Linked DNA regions of Homo sapiens: region 2 is linked to region 1. A link means that fine-mapping ties the variant in region 1 to the expression of a gene that starts in the linked region. Tissue or cell type: whole blood. Region 1 holds a variant in brackets; the other region holds the start of a gene. All regions are shown on one strand. Distances are from middle to middle.

Evidence for each region. PIP is the estimated chance that this variant, and not a neighbour inherited with it, causes the effect.
Region 2: CAV2 starts here. The variant in region 1 is fine-mapped to the expression of CAV2 in whole blood (INTERVAL, PIP 0.94).

Annotation. Positions count from the first base shown.
Region 1 is chr7:116,307,284-116,314,906 of GRCh38, forward strand. All of the region lies in intron 3 of LOC105375463 (a long non-coding RNA gene), which reads left to right. Among named protein-coding and RNA genes, the nearest start is that of TES, 100 kb to the left of the region's middle. The variant G/A (reference allele first, on the strand shown) is at 4,409.
Region 2 is chr7:116,495,886-116,503,508 of GRCh38, forward strand. It overlaps CAV2 (caveolin 2), which reads left to right and starts at 3,853. Exons shown (of 3, transcript NM_001233.5): 1 at 3,853-4,046; 2 at 4,375-4,562. The coding sequence starts at 3,897. CAV2-DT (CAV2 divergent transcript) reads right to left here and starts at 3,631. Exons shown (of 3, transcript NR_188012.1): 1 at 3,469-3,631. RefSeq lists enhancers at 2,868-3,369, 3,416-3,555 and silencers at 3,736-3,825, 5,610-5,904.

The DNA.
Region 1 (7,623 bases):
ACACAAGTACCCAATACTTTTGTACAAATATTTTATAAAAAGCTTTGCCTCCAATCCATAGCAATCCCCTTTGATTTGTGGAAGAGTCAAAATGAATGGTAAAGATAGATTTTCTTTTCATAATCTTTTACTTGGTAACTAATCTCACTGAAAATGCATGAAAAGGAAGTGGGCTAGGGAAGCAAGGGGAACCATGACTAAATCATTCTGTTTCAGTCTCTGCATATTTTACTTTAACATAAATTAATCTAATAGTCTCCTTCTTTCAAGAACTACCATTTCTCTCCATCAGTATACTGACAAAAAATTGTCCTCCATAAAAATATGGGAAATGAGTATAAGTTTTAAGAAGTCTGATGTTCACAAGTATTTAATCATAAAATTTAATTTGCAAAAAAGGTGACTAACTTTCTGAATGTCCCTTTGGAGATTTTGATTAATGTCTTACTATGGAGGGCACAGCCTTTGAAATACCTTGTGATCTTGCATTACATGGGGTCAGGTGAGACTTCAATTTATCAGAGAGCCAAATTTCACTCTGACAATGAAAGTGACTCCTTGGGCACCTCATACTTTTCCTTTAAAAAGCCTCTGCTTTTTCTAAATTACATATTTAGCTCCTGTGTTACTCTTATCTCTTTTAATGCAGGGCTTGGCTCTAATGCAACTATCACAGGTGGACCAGGACCTGCTCTTGCCTGGCAAGAGCCTGTGGAACTTCAAATTCACACTTCAGGAAAATTTCATTTTCCCTCATATTAATTGTGATGTCAGACTCAAAATATTTCCTAGCTCCAAGTGAAATGTTTTCTTTTCCCCCCACATTCCCTCTCCCTAGTCCAGTATTATGGAACTAAAACTACAAATGCTGCTAAATCTCTTAAAATATGAGACATTGACATGGAGTATCTGCTGACATAGTTGGGTGATGTTTAAACAAATAATATAGCAATCTTCACTGAACTTCTCCTACCTGTAAAGCAATATGTGTTATAGGGGATACAGAGATATTTAGGGCCTAGCTGCATTTATAGTGTAATGGGATGATATATGTATAAGAACTTCTAGCATATAGTGTAAGGCAAGGCAAGATATGTGCCAAATCAATGTCATGATCAGCAAATTCTAATAGATGAACAAAATGTACAAATCCCTACAGGTAGAGTTTTGGAGATAGGTTCTGGTTTGAGTAAAGAAAGATGGGCAGGGTAGTTGGAATGGAGTTGGTAAGGGCATGAATAAGTTTACAGGTACAATGAATCAACACATTGGTTGGTGGAGCACGTGCTGGAGAAAAGTTTGGGACATTAGTCTGGAAATTTGATACTGACGCCAGTCTGTGGAAGGCAAACTGAGGATTGCAAAATAAGTTTCATGGTGATATAATACTACTGAAAATTTTTGAGCAGTTATGTGATATAGTGAATACATTAAGCTTTAGGAAGAGTATTATGGCACCTGTGTGAACCCTTCAACTAGTATATATGCTGTATGATGAAGGGACTGTCAGTCATGCTTCTCATGATATTCTATGACACATGGTACATGTCTAGTAAAATATATGTTGAGTAACTGAAAAAAAGAAGAAAATGCCCGGAGGAAGTGAATCAATAAATCTTGTAGTTTTCTTGGACCAGAGGAAATAAGCTTATGTTCCAGAACAATGGCTCCCAAATGGAGGTGATTTAGCCTCCCAAGAGACATTTAGCAACACTTGTAGACATTTTTTTTCACAACTCAGGGGATGTTACTGGTATCTGGAAGGTAAAAGGCAAGGATGATGCTAACTGTTCTACAAAACACAAAACAGCCTCTCAAGACAAAGAATTATCCATCCCCAAGTGTACATAGTGCCAAGGTTGAGTGGACCAGATCTAGAAGGAAGGCAGTCAAAAGAGAAAAAATAGAGATAAGACAAAGGATAGCTGTAAGAACTTGGTGACTGCTTTCATACAGAGGAGCAAAGGAGAACAAAGGCCAAAGATTACATGGGAATTCTCTTCTGGGTCACTCTGGAATCGTGACACTACAGGCAAAACTGGAGCCCAGAAAAGAGGCCAAATTGTTCATGTCTGTGTGTTGGTGAGTTTGGTTTAGATTTGCAGAATTTATGAAAAAGGTAAAATCTACTAATATAATTGTCTATTGGATGCTGGGGATGCTGGACTAGAAGTTAGGGGAAAAGTTAGGACTAATGTTCTAACTATGGTGGCTGACAAAGCTGATATGAGTCTTACCTTCATGGGGAGTTCAGTGGAGGAGGTGGGCATTAAATGGATAGTCTCTAGTATATCAGTATAATTGGAAATTGTAAGTTCTGTAAAAGAAATGTATAGTTTCTATGTGAAAGCATAACAGGCATCATCAGGACATATCTGTGGACTGGGAAATGCCTCTCTTAGCAAATGACATTTATACTGAACAATGAGTATGACTGCCACCAGGCAAAGAACAGGGAGAAAATATTGAAAGCGGTTGAAATGGCATGGGTGAAGGCTATGAGGCAGACAAAAATAGGTGGGTTTAACGAACAGAAGGAAGTGAATGAGCTGCAGAGAGAAAAGGGTGGGAAGTACAAGAGGTTGAAGAAATAGGCAGGGGATGAGCCCAGGGTTCATGCTAAAACTTCTGAATATAATCCAGTTGTAATAGGAAATGATTGAAAATTTTAAGCAGAGAACTGAGAAAATCCATTTTACATTTTTAAAAGAATGTATTTTATATTTTTACAATTTTAAAATTGGTTATTATTCATATATGGAGAATAAATTGGAGGATCCAAGAGTAGAAATAGGGAGATAAAGAGTTGGCTATTGCAGTTGGCAAGGCAAGAGATAACGGCAGCTTGGACTAAAGTGATAAATTGTTGGAAGAGAAATTTGAGAAAAGTCACATTATTCAAGTGACATTCTTGAAGCAGAATTCTTGGGGAGGTGATGGATTGGATAAGAAGAATAACAGAAAGGGGAGTATTCAGGTTGATAGCTCTATTAGTCTCCTGAGGCTGCTGTAACAAATGACCACAAACTGGGTGGCTTACAACAACTGAAATTTATCTTCTCACAGTTCCAAAGGGCAGAAATCCGAACTCCAGGTGTCAACAGGGCCACACTTCCACTGAAGGCTCTAGGAGGGAATTCTTCCTTGCTTCTTTCAGCTTCTAGTGGCTCCAGGCGTTCGTTGGCTTGTGGCTGGAAAACACCAATTTTCTCCTCTGTCTACACATAGTCTTCTCCTCTTCTCTCACTTAAATCTTTTTCAGCTTTTCTCCCATAAAAACATTTGTCATTGGATTTAGGATCTACCTGAATAACCGGGATGATATAATCTTGAGATATTTAATTACATCTGAAAAGACCCTTTTTCCAAATAAAGTCACATTCATGGTTCAGGGATATGGACATATCTTTTAGGGGACATATCCCTATTCACTCCACTACAATGGCTATGTATCTGGCTTTAATAATTGCGTAGGATAAGATTGAAGAAGAAGCAAAGTTTAGGGGAAGGATCAAGAGTTCAGTTTAGATACATTATATTGAGATGCCTGTGAAATAGTAAAAAGAAGCCGGATGTGGTGGCTCACGCCTGTAATCCCAGCACTTTGGGAGGCCAAGGCAGGTGGATCACTTGAGGTCAGGCCAGCCTGGCCAATATGGTGAAACCCTTTCTCTATGAAAAATAAAACAATCAGTCCAGCATGGTGGCGCATGCCTGTAGTCCCAGCTACTCGGAAGGCTGAGGCAGGATAATGGCACTCCAGCCTGGGTGACAAAGCAAGACTCTGTCTCAAAACAAAACAAAACAAATACTAAGGAGAGATGTCAAGTAGACAGTTTAATAAATAGTTCAGAAGAGGTTGATGTTTGTTATTCAAAGCCTGGGATGAGTGAGATTGCTGAGGGCAATTGTTTAGTGAGAAAATAAACCACGATTGTTATTTGAAAATTCCAAGTTTGAGACATATAGTAGAAGATTCGGAGCTAGCAAAAGAGTTCAAAAATGAACTGCCAGAGATGTGGAAGTGAAAAGAAGAGACTGGAGTACTTGAATGGTGGTGAGTAAAGGTGAACAATCAGGTTTATGCAAAGTTTCATCAGGTACGTATGTAAGGAAAGAAAATTGAGAGTATTTTAAGAAAAGAGGGGTTATTCCTAAAGAGGGAAAATTTAGCATATTCAGCATATTCATATTCAGCAATTGTAATAGTGATTACAACTACCAATAGAAAGAGGCAAGATTAGATTCTTGACTATTGAACCCTGGTGTATATCTGTATTTTGATATCAAAATTAGTCATTAAAAAGGAGAAAGAGAAATCACAGGGGTGCAATAGCAATAACGTAGAACTCCTAAATTTAAGGGAAGTAAAGTTAACTTCTACATATACTGGTAAAATGTTAAAATT[G/A]GATTTCTAAGGAGAATGATGAAATAAATGTGAATAACATTAAAGTTAAGTGTGAAACTTGGAGCTGCTCTTCAAGTTAATTACATATCCTAAAAGTGGGTGTTTTATTATGAAAATATGTTCCAGACAAGAACTCCAGTAACTAGAGTATCATGATGGGCTGAACACTGGAACCTTGGGATTCTCTACTTCTCTGCTATGAACTTGCTGTGTGACTTTGGGTAATTCATTTCACTTTTCTGAGCCTGACTCAGTTTCTGCCCCCATAAATAGTTTTGAGCTACATAATCTCTGAAGTTCTCTTGAGTTCTAGATATGATGACTCAATGTCACTTTCAGGCCTTCTATTTGGCTGTATTTAGATGTATTTCTATGAGGCCCTTTCAAGTTCTAAGGCTCAGAGGCATAGGAATCTGTTAGCCTGACACACAGACTCAGGCTGGATGGTGAGCTTTGTTCTTTCCTCTGGCTATGGCCATAGGCACTGGAACAATGTCCATTGCCATGGTCATTCTCCCTTCTCATTGGAGCAAAGCCTCTTCCAAGTCACAAGCTAGGTTTTGAGTACTTTCTGGATTTTCGTTATTTCACAATCTTTATCTTGATCATCAGGAAGCTTCTTCTTTTAAATCCTCAAAACATGAAAGTTCTGATTAGACCATGTACATTTCCTGATGTACATCTACGCACTCACATGCTAATGGATGCTACCCTCTCAGTTCCCATGGATCTTGCACACGCCCTTTAGAGAATGGCTACTCTCTTCCATGACACAAAGATAACTTACCCAAAAGGGCAACTCCTTATAGTTCTCAAGGTGATCTAGTGCCTTTTGTTAGCATGCAGAATCAAAAACTATAATTTTCATCAGAGCATCTTGATTTAGAGAAGTTTTACCCGAGGGTTTAAGTTTGTTTAGGAGATCATGATTTCTCTTAAATTGTGGGTGTGTATGTGAAAATGTGCTTTCTTTAAAAAAGAGAACGATTTACTTTCATCAGATCCTCAAGTAAGTCACAGCCCATTAAATATTAAGAACCACTGTTATAGGTTTCCTCTAGCCAGGACACCAATTCTTACTTCAGCCAACCGTGGAAAAGTTAAGGGTGCTACATGACAGTAGGTATGGCTACTTAAGCTGAAGGAAAATCTGTGAGACAGTATGTGGCCTATTCAGTAAAATATTATATTTCATATGCCATAAGCATGGAAAGGAATAAGCTCTTACATATTTCTATTTCTAGAACATTAGTTCCTTTACGAGGTAACCATCTTAGGCAAGGTTGTTATTAGTTTCCAAGGAATCAGTGGAGAGGCTCATGACAAAGGGAAGAAGGGGCTGCTTCTGCTTACAGAGAAAATTATGTGGAATTTGGGATTTTCATATACTTTCATAATCTGACTCCTCCCATTTAACTGTTTATTTATTTATTTATTTATTTATTGAGATGGAGTCTCACTCTGTTGCCCAGGCTGGAGTGCAGTGGCACCATCTTGGCTCACTGCAACCTCCGCCTCCCAGGTTCAAGCGATTCTCCCGCCTCAACCTCCCACGTAGCTGGGATTACAGGCGCCCACCACCACGCCCGGCTAATGTTTGTATTTTTGTAGAGACAGGGTTTCACCATGTTGGCCAGGCTGGTCTCGAACTCCTGACCTCAGGTGATCTGCCCTTGGCCTCCCAAAGTGCTGGGATTACAGGAGTGAGCCACCGCCTCCAGCCTAAATGAACCACTTCTGAGACTGCAAAAATTGTCTCACTGTTTTTATGCGTTATGACACAGTATTTTTCAGAAGGACAATTATTAAAAGGCATGAAAAGACTATTTGAAAAGGTTAAAGAAATAGGTTTGTTTTAATAAGGAGAGAATGATAAACAGCCAATATGAATGTTTACATGTATGAGAGAATACAGGGAATTAAAGCAGATGTTTTTGTTTTCAACTGATATAAAAAATTAGGAGTTAGTCTTTCATTTTAAAATGGAGGCATATGTTTGACTTAGAGAAAGTGTTGACTGTAGAATGTTACTAAAGGAGTTTGTAGAATCTCCTTTTTCAGATATTTTTAAAGAATAGAAAATGGTATCGCTTGACTTGGGCAGATTCTTGCCTAATGTGTCCTTTCTAAAATACAACCACAGACATCAGTATCATTTATGGTAGAGAATGGGGAGGCTTACTCTCCGAATTCATGCAACAAACATTTATGGAGCCTCATGATGTACCAGGCACTAGGAATTAAACTTCCAATTCAATGTCCCCATGCAAACAGATCTTCAGATAGATAGGCAGATAGACAGTGGAAAGGGAATGTGGTAAATGCCATGTAGGGAAGGGGAAAGACTGGCCCAGTAATTATGACCACCTTTAACTGAGTCCAGGCACTGTCAGGCAGTGTCCAGGCACAGTGTCAAGCACTCCATGTACATTATTTTATTTAGTGCTCACAACAACCCTATGGAATATATACTATCATTTGCCAGCTATTATCCATGAAGAAACTAAGGTTAAGGAGAGATTAAATAACTTGCCCAAGATCACGCAGACAGCAAATTGCAGAGATTGTTTTGACTGTAGAGTTGAAGTTCTTAAACCCTGGGCCAGCCAGTCAGAATCTGAGAGGAGACAAGTAAGGTTGGTGAGGGGAATGGGAATTGAAAGGGATGAGGAAAGCCTTCTGAAGGAGAAGCCATTTCAATGGAGTTTTGAATGAGCAGGAGTTGGCCAGGTGTATTTTATCCGGGGGGCTGGTAGTGGAGGAGAAGACATGTTTGCCAGATAAAGCAGCTGTGGAAGGGACTGAATTTCAGTCACTTGTTATTTAGCTAAAGACATGGTCATTCTAAAGTCCCTACCGAGTTCTTGCACACTGATACCAGGGTTTTCAATGAGTAGTGCTCAGTTTATAAGAGTTAAGAAGTCACCATTTTTTTTTCTTAGTCCAAATGAAAATAGTGCTTCATCTGAGATCTGCGTATGAATGGCTCTGCCTGTCTTTGGTCAACCCATTTTCCACTCCCTTTACTTGTCCCTTCTTTCCCTCCGGCCTCTAACTCTCTTAGTCCTTCCTTCTTTTCTCTGAAATGAAGCTCTCTCCTACCCATAGAGAACACTTCCTCCTCTGGTTCACCAGGAAGTTTTTTTGGGCACAGCTTCATGGCCTCTCACAGTGATGGATCCTTATTTAAAGCCTGAAATCGATTTCCCCATGGC
Region 2 (7,623 bases), 190 kb after region 1:
CATTTGGCAACATTTGGAAACATTTTGGTTGTCATGACTGGGAGTGTTATAGGTATCTAGTGGATAGATGCCAAGGATGTTGCTAAACATCCTACAATGCACTGGACAGTCTCTCAAGGAAAAATGATCTGGCCCAAAATGCCAACAGGGTTGAGATTGAGAAACTCTGGTCTAATCTGAACACTCTGAATATTATTAAAACATATGGTGAGATCAAGAATTTATTACTGCATTTTCGTTAATACCAATTTGCTCAAAGGCAGTTTGAAAAACAGACCCTGACTAAAATTGCATGTGCGTTATACAGGGAAAAAAATATGACACATTTGTGATTTGAAAAGGAAAAAAAGCTGAAGGGAAAAAATTAGATATTTTTATTCATAAGAGCATTGCCATACAATTTTCAATGCTCCAGAAAAATAACCTTCTTCCATTGACACTGTGCTGAAAGAAGTGAGTAACAAAATGGTTATAAACTATCCTTCTCACAAATTCTAATCTATTATCAGACTGTTATTTCTAAAATATATTAATACACCATCTAAAAAACAGCCCTCTTATCAGAAGCTATGATACATAATAAGTCAGAAGATAAATGCACCAGTAGGAATTTATTATAATTTTTTTAATTTCTCTGGATTACAGGGCACGTAAACTCTGTAGGAGGTGCTTATTGGAGAGTAATTCTGTGATCCAGAAGACACTAGAATGTGTTCAGCCATTTAGCACCCACCCACCCCCTTTCTTTTCCCTTTCCTGGTAAATTTTCCTTTATGTTCATAAGGACAGATGCCATTGCTGTGGGAATCACTCTGGTTTAAGCCTCTTGAGAAAAACAGTAGCTAACTATATTAGTCCGTTCTCACACTGCTATAAAGAAATACCTGAGACTGGGTAATCTATAAAGAAAAGAGGTTTAGTTGGCTCACAGTTCCACTAGCTGTACAGGAAGCATTATGATGGCATCTGCTCAGCTTCTGGGGAGGCCTCAGGAAACTTACAATCATGGCGGAAGGTAAACAGGGAGTATCACCTCACGTGGCCACAGAAGGAGCCAAAGAAAGGTGAGGGGGAGGTGCCACACACTTTTGAAGGACGAGATCTAATGAGAACTCACTCACTATACAGTACCAACTGCGGGGTCGGGGGGCAGGGGTGGCAGTGGGGGTGGTTGCTAAACCATTCCTAAGAACTCTGCCCCCATGATCTAATCTCTACCTCCCACCAAGCCCCACCTCCAACACTGGGGATTACAGTTCCACATGAGATTCGGGCAGGGACACAAATCCAAGCCATATCACTAACCTTATCTAAATACTGGCCAATAGGATAAGCAAAATCATTTTTATAGCTTCCTTCAAAAAATCTTATGTATTAAAATGTTGAAATGTATAAGAATTTCATCAAAATAAGAACCTCACCAGATCTGACCCAAGGGAGAGAAGATTGTTCAATAAAAAATTACAAATGGATGAATAAATGAATCCTCTCCTTTCAAGTTCTGTGCTCCATACAACAAATCTAGATGGGTCTCATTTAGATGGGATTTAGAGACACCTTTCTTAAATACCTATCATTTTACGAATGAAGCTGTTGTCTAAAGAGTCCTCTTGGCCACTTCCTGAAAACAAATCAATTATTTGTGATAACTCTCAAATGTCCTAATAATCCCATGGAAAATGTAAATGTAATGAGGACCAAGAATTATAAGGTAAGAAGTGCTAATGTCAGATTTTTACCCACTACATAAGCCCACTCTTGTACTAGGGCAGTGACTTTCTTCTTTGGGTGAGACCTTGAAATCTGGGATTATAATTTTGAATTATAATTATAAAATGGTATTTGGCTGTAAATTATCTCCTTTTTTTTTCTGTTCCTCACAGTTGATATTATGGATTCCCATAAGGATTCATGTCTTCTATTCACTTTAATGAACAGTTGTTGGGCAACAATTCTAGAAGAGTTCCAATTCTCATCAGGAGAATGGACAAGGTGGAGAAGCAGAGAAAATGCAATGAGTAGAATGTCTAAGTCATCACTTTGGAATTGACTGAACATAAATAAAAATGAGAAAGATACGTAAAAAAGAAGGGAATGGGTAAGCAGGGTGATGTCTGGGAGAGGAGGGGCTCCATAGCCATGAGAGTCAACTCTGTAACACCCTATAGGGTTACAACACTGCCCTTCATATACTGAGGTAGCAGCAGGGAAACTTTTTAATTATTAGAAATATTGAACTTTGCCTCCCACCCCCAAACATTTTTCTCATTCAGTTCCTGTTCTTTTTTATTTCTGTAATTTTTACTGTTTCAAAAATGATCTTTTTTCTTTCGGAAGAAGCAATTCTTCAAATCCAGTTCACATAAGGGGATTTGATATGTTCAACAAGCTCCAAATACACTGTATCCAGCAATACCTACTACATGCCTACTTTGAGCTCTGAGCAACCTGCACCTCAAGCCTAGTTCTCATTGTTTTGCTTTTGGCAAATTTTCACTAAGTGCCCTTCCTCCCCAAACACACGTATATGTCTACCAGACCCTAAAGCCCTTTATGAACATGCAAACTCCTCCCTTCTGAAAACCTTTGCGTGAGTGGTCAGCAGGCTAATTCATCCATTGCAATGTGGCTTTGTGTTAGGGTTCTGTTTCCGTGCTGCCTGCAAGATAATCACAGATGTGACTGCATCTTAGAAGTTCCTGAATCTTTCAAGACAGTCTGGTTCACAAGAAAATTAAAAGGTGGAGGTCGGGCGCGGTGGCTCACGCCTGCAATCCCAGCACTTTGGGAGGCCGAGGCGGGCGGATCACCTGAGGTTGGGAGTTCGAAACCAGCCTGACCAACATGGGGAAACCCCGTCTCTGCTAAAAATACAAAATTAGCCAGGCGTGGTGGTGCATGCCTGTAATCCCAGCTACTCGGGAGGCTGAGGCAGGAGAATCGCTTGAACCCGGGAGGCAGAGGTTGCGATGAGCCGAGATCGTGCCATTGCACTCCAGCCTGGGCAACAAGAGCGAAACTCTGCCACACACACACAAACACACACACACACACACACACGGTGTAGTTTAGGAAGTAAAAAAAAAAAAAAAAAAAAAATCAGATCTCCCCTCACACCTCAGATCTGAAGGCACAAACTCTAGGGCCAGGGCGTTCGCCTACCCAACTCCACATGCACTTGCAGGTCACCTAGCACTCAGGTACCTAGCACTCAGGTACATTGTGGCTCCTTACCTCTCACGACAGCAGCAACAACGTTGATTGGAAGTTTATCACTGTGTGTTACGGGCCATGGGCCATGTGTGTTAGAATTTTATGTGAAATTAACATTTAATTCTCACGGACACCCCTGAAACAGATGCCACAGCCCCCATTTTGCCAACGAGGCAGCTGAGGTTCCCAGAGGCTCAATACCAGCACCATGAGCCGCAGCACGCAAGGCAAACACAGCCGGAGGTGAGCACATACCTGCTTCGCACCCCATGCGCCTAACCACAAGGTTCCCTCCCTCCAGGAAGGCCGTTGTCTTCCCTGGGACGACTTGCCAGCTCTGAGGCATGACAGTACGGGCCCCCAGAAGGGTGACCAGGAGGCCCTCCTCGTCCCAGCTGCCGGCGTCGCCGCCCACTGCAGGGCCCGGGCTGTGACTCGTGGGGACGGTTCCCTGCGCCCCGGCGGGGGAGGTGGGCGGGGAGGGGCGGCGGGGCGCCGGGGCGGGGCTCGGGACGGCCGGGCTGGGAGCTGGAGCCCACAGCGGGAAGCGGCCGCCGCCCGGGCCTCGCAGGGCTAGGCGAGGCGAGGGGGGGCGGGGCCGGGCGCTACGGGAAGGGGAGGCCGCGCGGACCGGGAGCCGCACCGCGCCAGCCGGGCTGCAGCGGCCGCGCACCAAGGCTGCGATGGGGCTGGAGACGGAGAAGGCGGACGTACAGCTCTTCATGGACGACGACTCCTACAGCCACCACAGCGGCCTCGAGTACGCCGACCCCGAGAAGTTCGCGGACTCGGACCAGGACCGGGATCCCCACCGGCTCAACTCGCATCTCAAGGTGAAGCCCGGGGCGGGCGGGCCCAAGTCCCCGCTGAGGCCGGGAGGTGCGGGCGCCCCTCAGCCCCGCCCTAACCCGTCCCACCATTGCTACCGGGTCGGCCCCGCAGGGTCTGAGACCCGCACCCTTCCCCGGTCCCACCCGTCACCAGGCCGCCCGCGTAGCCAGGAATTCTTAGCCAGGTTCCTGTGCGCCCACCGTGACCCTAAGAGAAGAGGCGGACGCCCTGGCACGTCCTTCCCTCCTGCTTCCCCCGCCCAAAGCGCTCCCGGTTCCCGGGGCGTCAGGTTGGCTGACAGTTCGGGGTCCCTGCGTCCTGTCTCCTCAGCTGGGCTTCGAGGATGTGATCGCAGAGCCGGTGACTACGCACTCCTTTGACAAAGTGTGGATCTGCAGCCATGCCCTCTTTGAAATCAGCAAATACGTAATGTACAAGTTCCTGACGGTGTTCCTGGCCATTCCCCTGGCCTTCATTGCGGGAATTCTCTTTGCCACCCTCAGCTGTCTGCACATCTGGTGAGACGGGGCACACCGGGTGGACCGGCTTTCTGAAACATGGGCATATTCTCCGCCACCTGCCCCCTACTCTCCTCTTATCCCAGGCCGGCGTCAGGAGGAGGAACGCGCATCAGTTCCCAAGCAGTAGGAAGAACTGGAAGGCCTTGAAAGGCAATGCGCTTCCTTTAGAATAACAGTTTGGGCTTGGAGTTTCAACAGGAGAAAGAATGTCGGTCTTTCCTGGGGTGTGATTTTCCTTGCATACATAAGGCTGGGCTGAGTGTGGAGGCGGGTACCTGGAAGCCACACTTCTTACCACAGGCTGCTCTCGGGGCCCTGTTGTGACTCGTACCTGCGGTTCTGGGCAGGACTCTTCTTTCTTTCATTGCCTTTTATTCAGTCACTGCCTGTGCTTGGGGTAAAACAAAAGTGATCTCTGAGCAGAATGCCGCTGACAGTAGAATTGGATGAGGATGTCAGACCTGGTTAAGCAGTAGTGTGGAGGGGCTGCTTCAACTTTGCCCCTGGCAGATGGCAAGGATGGGACCCAGAGGAAAGGGAGGTGTGTGCAGTTAAGGCGAGGGTCCCCCCCAGTACAAACGAATGAAAACTCCAGCTGCGGGATAATGAATGAGAAGGCCTCCAAATTACTTTTTCACTGATGAAACACAAATGGAAGTGGCATATAATTAAAGGGGAAAGAAATATGGAAGCCCACTGTATATTGATAGGATATTTTGAGTAACTCTATTCATACTCAAAATGTGTCCTAAACTGTAGAGAACTTTCTTAAGCATCTTTTAAATTTTTTATGGAAAATGTCATATTTTACCAATAAATGTTGTTGTGTTAGAAAATATCCACTTTAATCTGAGAGGAAGAATATTCAGATCATCCCCAGTATCACAACAGTTGTCACGCTAGTGCTTCAGGTTAGTCCTGGTGAAAGGTATAACCCAAGGTACCTCCGTGTCTTTCTTACACCTTTTATGATATTGCCACACCCTGATAAATACTCGGTGTTCATTGTTAGAAGTTACCAATTTATCCTTTATTTCTCTATACCACCTGAATCTTAATTTATTTAGTCAGTTAGCTAGCTAGTTAGTTCAACAAACTTTAAATTGATTGAGTGCTTAGTTTGTGCTGGGCACTGGGCCAGGATGAATGAGAGATAGGGTCTGCCTTCAGCTTACTCACAGCCTTATCAGGGCAGCTGGCTAGGTACAGAGATGGACGCTGAGAAAACACAGTCAACTGACAAAGAGGGAGGAACAGACAAGGCTTTGAAGAGTGAAAGGAGTCGAAAAAGACTTTGAAAGGATAAATGAAAATTCACCAAATACGTAAAGGATACACAAAGAACACCAATTTAATTTTATCACTAAAGGTTGTAAACAATTAAACTATGTTGAAGGTGCCAAGATTGCCAGGGAAATGAAAATGTTGCCTTAGTACATGATCAGCTTCATGAAGGTCAAATGGATAGTTATATTCTGACATTTGCACTTGAATTTTTTTTAAGATCCCTGAGTTGGCACATAAGATTTGGGATTCCCAATTAACTAAAACTAATCATCTAACCTCTATGTCAGTTTTCTCACTTTCAAAACTGTGAAAAACTGAGTGACCGCATAGCATATTGTGAAATGCTGACTATGAAGCTATTTGGAAATGTGAAGTACCATATTTATAGTCAACAAAGCTAGGCTTCCCAAAGCTTTTGTGAAAGAATTTGAAAAAAAAAAGTTTCTCATTTACTAAGTGGTGGAAAGATATAAGTAAAACTACAATTAACCAAGCAATGCCTCTCTCCAGCTGGCTCTTCTGAGAATGGGAGGTGTTTTTGTATAGTGCTTCAATTGGTGAATCATCAATGCACCTTTTTTTAGCCACATAAAATGTATTATTTAATATTATTTAACTTCAGCTTGTTTTTTTAACTATATTTATGTGGGGCATTAATATTTAACTGTAAAACATTTGTCACCAGGCAGCTGTGATTGCAAGTAGAGGAGTAATTTCAAACAAGAATGCTTAAAAGTTAGCTATGCCTTGATAAAATAGGTTTATCATTAATAGATTGCATTCCCATGACATGATAAGACCAGATCAAGGACAGACCTTACAGAATTGCAAACCCATTTGGGCAAGCTTTTTTTGTTTTGTTTTCTTTTTATATATATTTTTTAAAGCAGGGGCTTGTGTATTGTTTTTACCAAAAAGTTAGTGGTGACCAAAGCTAGGAAAATATGCAGTAGTGGAACTTTGAACCATGTCACAATATTAAAACAGGTCAGATTTTAGATCCTTTAAACAAACAATCAACAACAATAAAACACAGAAGTCTGGTGGTGTTGGATCCTAGACCAGAAGTACGGGCCATTAGGAATCAGTGAATTAGTTGGATTCCATACTACAGTCAGACAGAGATAGCTGCTGTTTGTTAAGCACAGGTTATTGGTCATAAGTGGATCATAACCAAAGAAATGTGGCTGGAGCACCCATATCCCTTATTTTTGCTGGAATGCAAAGCAAACAAATGCCCAACTGATGGAAATGCGATAGTAGCAATCTCATTTCTAGAAGACAGTTTTCATACAGTAAATTGCTATGAATGCAGTCTGCATGACTCTACAATTACTACAACACTAAATAAAAGTCTCTATCCTATGGCCTTATTATCCAAGGATATATATTATCCAAGGAATATATAACCTTACATATATTAATATATATAATATATATATATTATAAGATTTACTTAAGAAGTATTGGCCACATTCAGCCTCAACCAAATTTTGGGTCAATCAGAACTGCCTGGAGTTTCAGAAGCTAAACTATTTGTGATGTTGAGAACCCAACTTAAGTTTGATGTCGGAGGATCATTAGATTCTCTGCTCCAAAATGAGGGAACACAAGTAAACAAAAATAAAATCCAAATGAGTTAACAACACCCTATAAACTGAACTCCTCGAATGTGGGTAACTGCTTTGCTGAACAAGAAGATTCACTTTTGACATGTGCTAAATTCCCTTTTAGGACATGGAGATCTAAGGAGTCACGGAGATAGAAAATT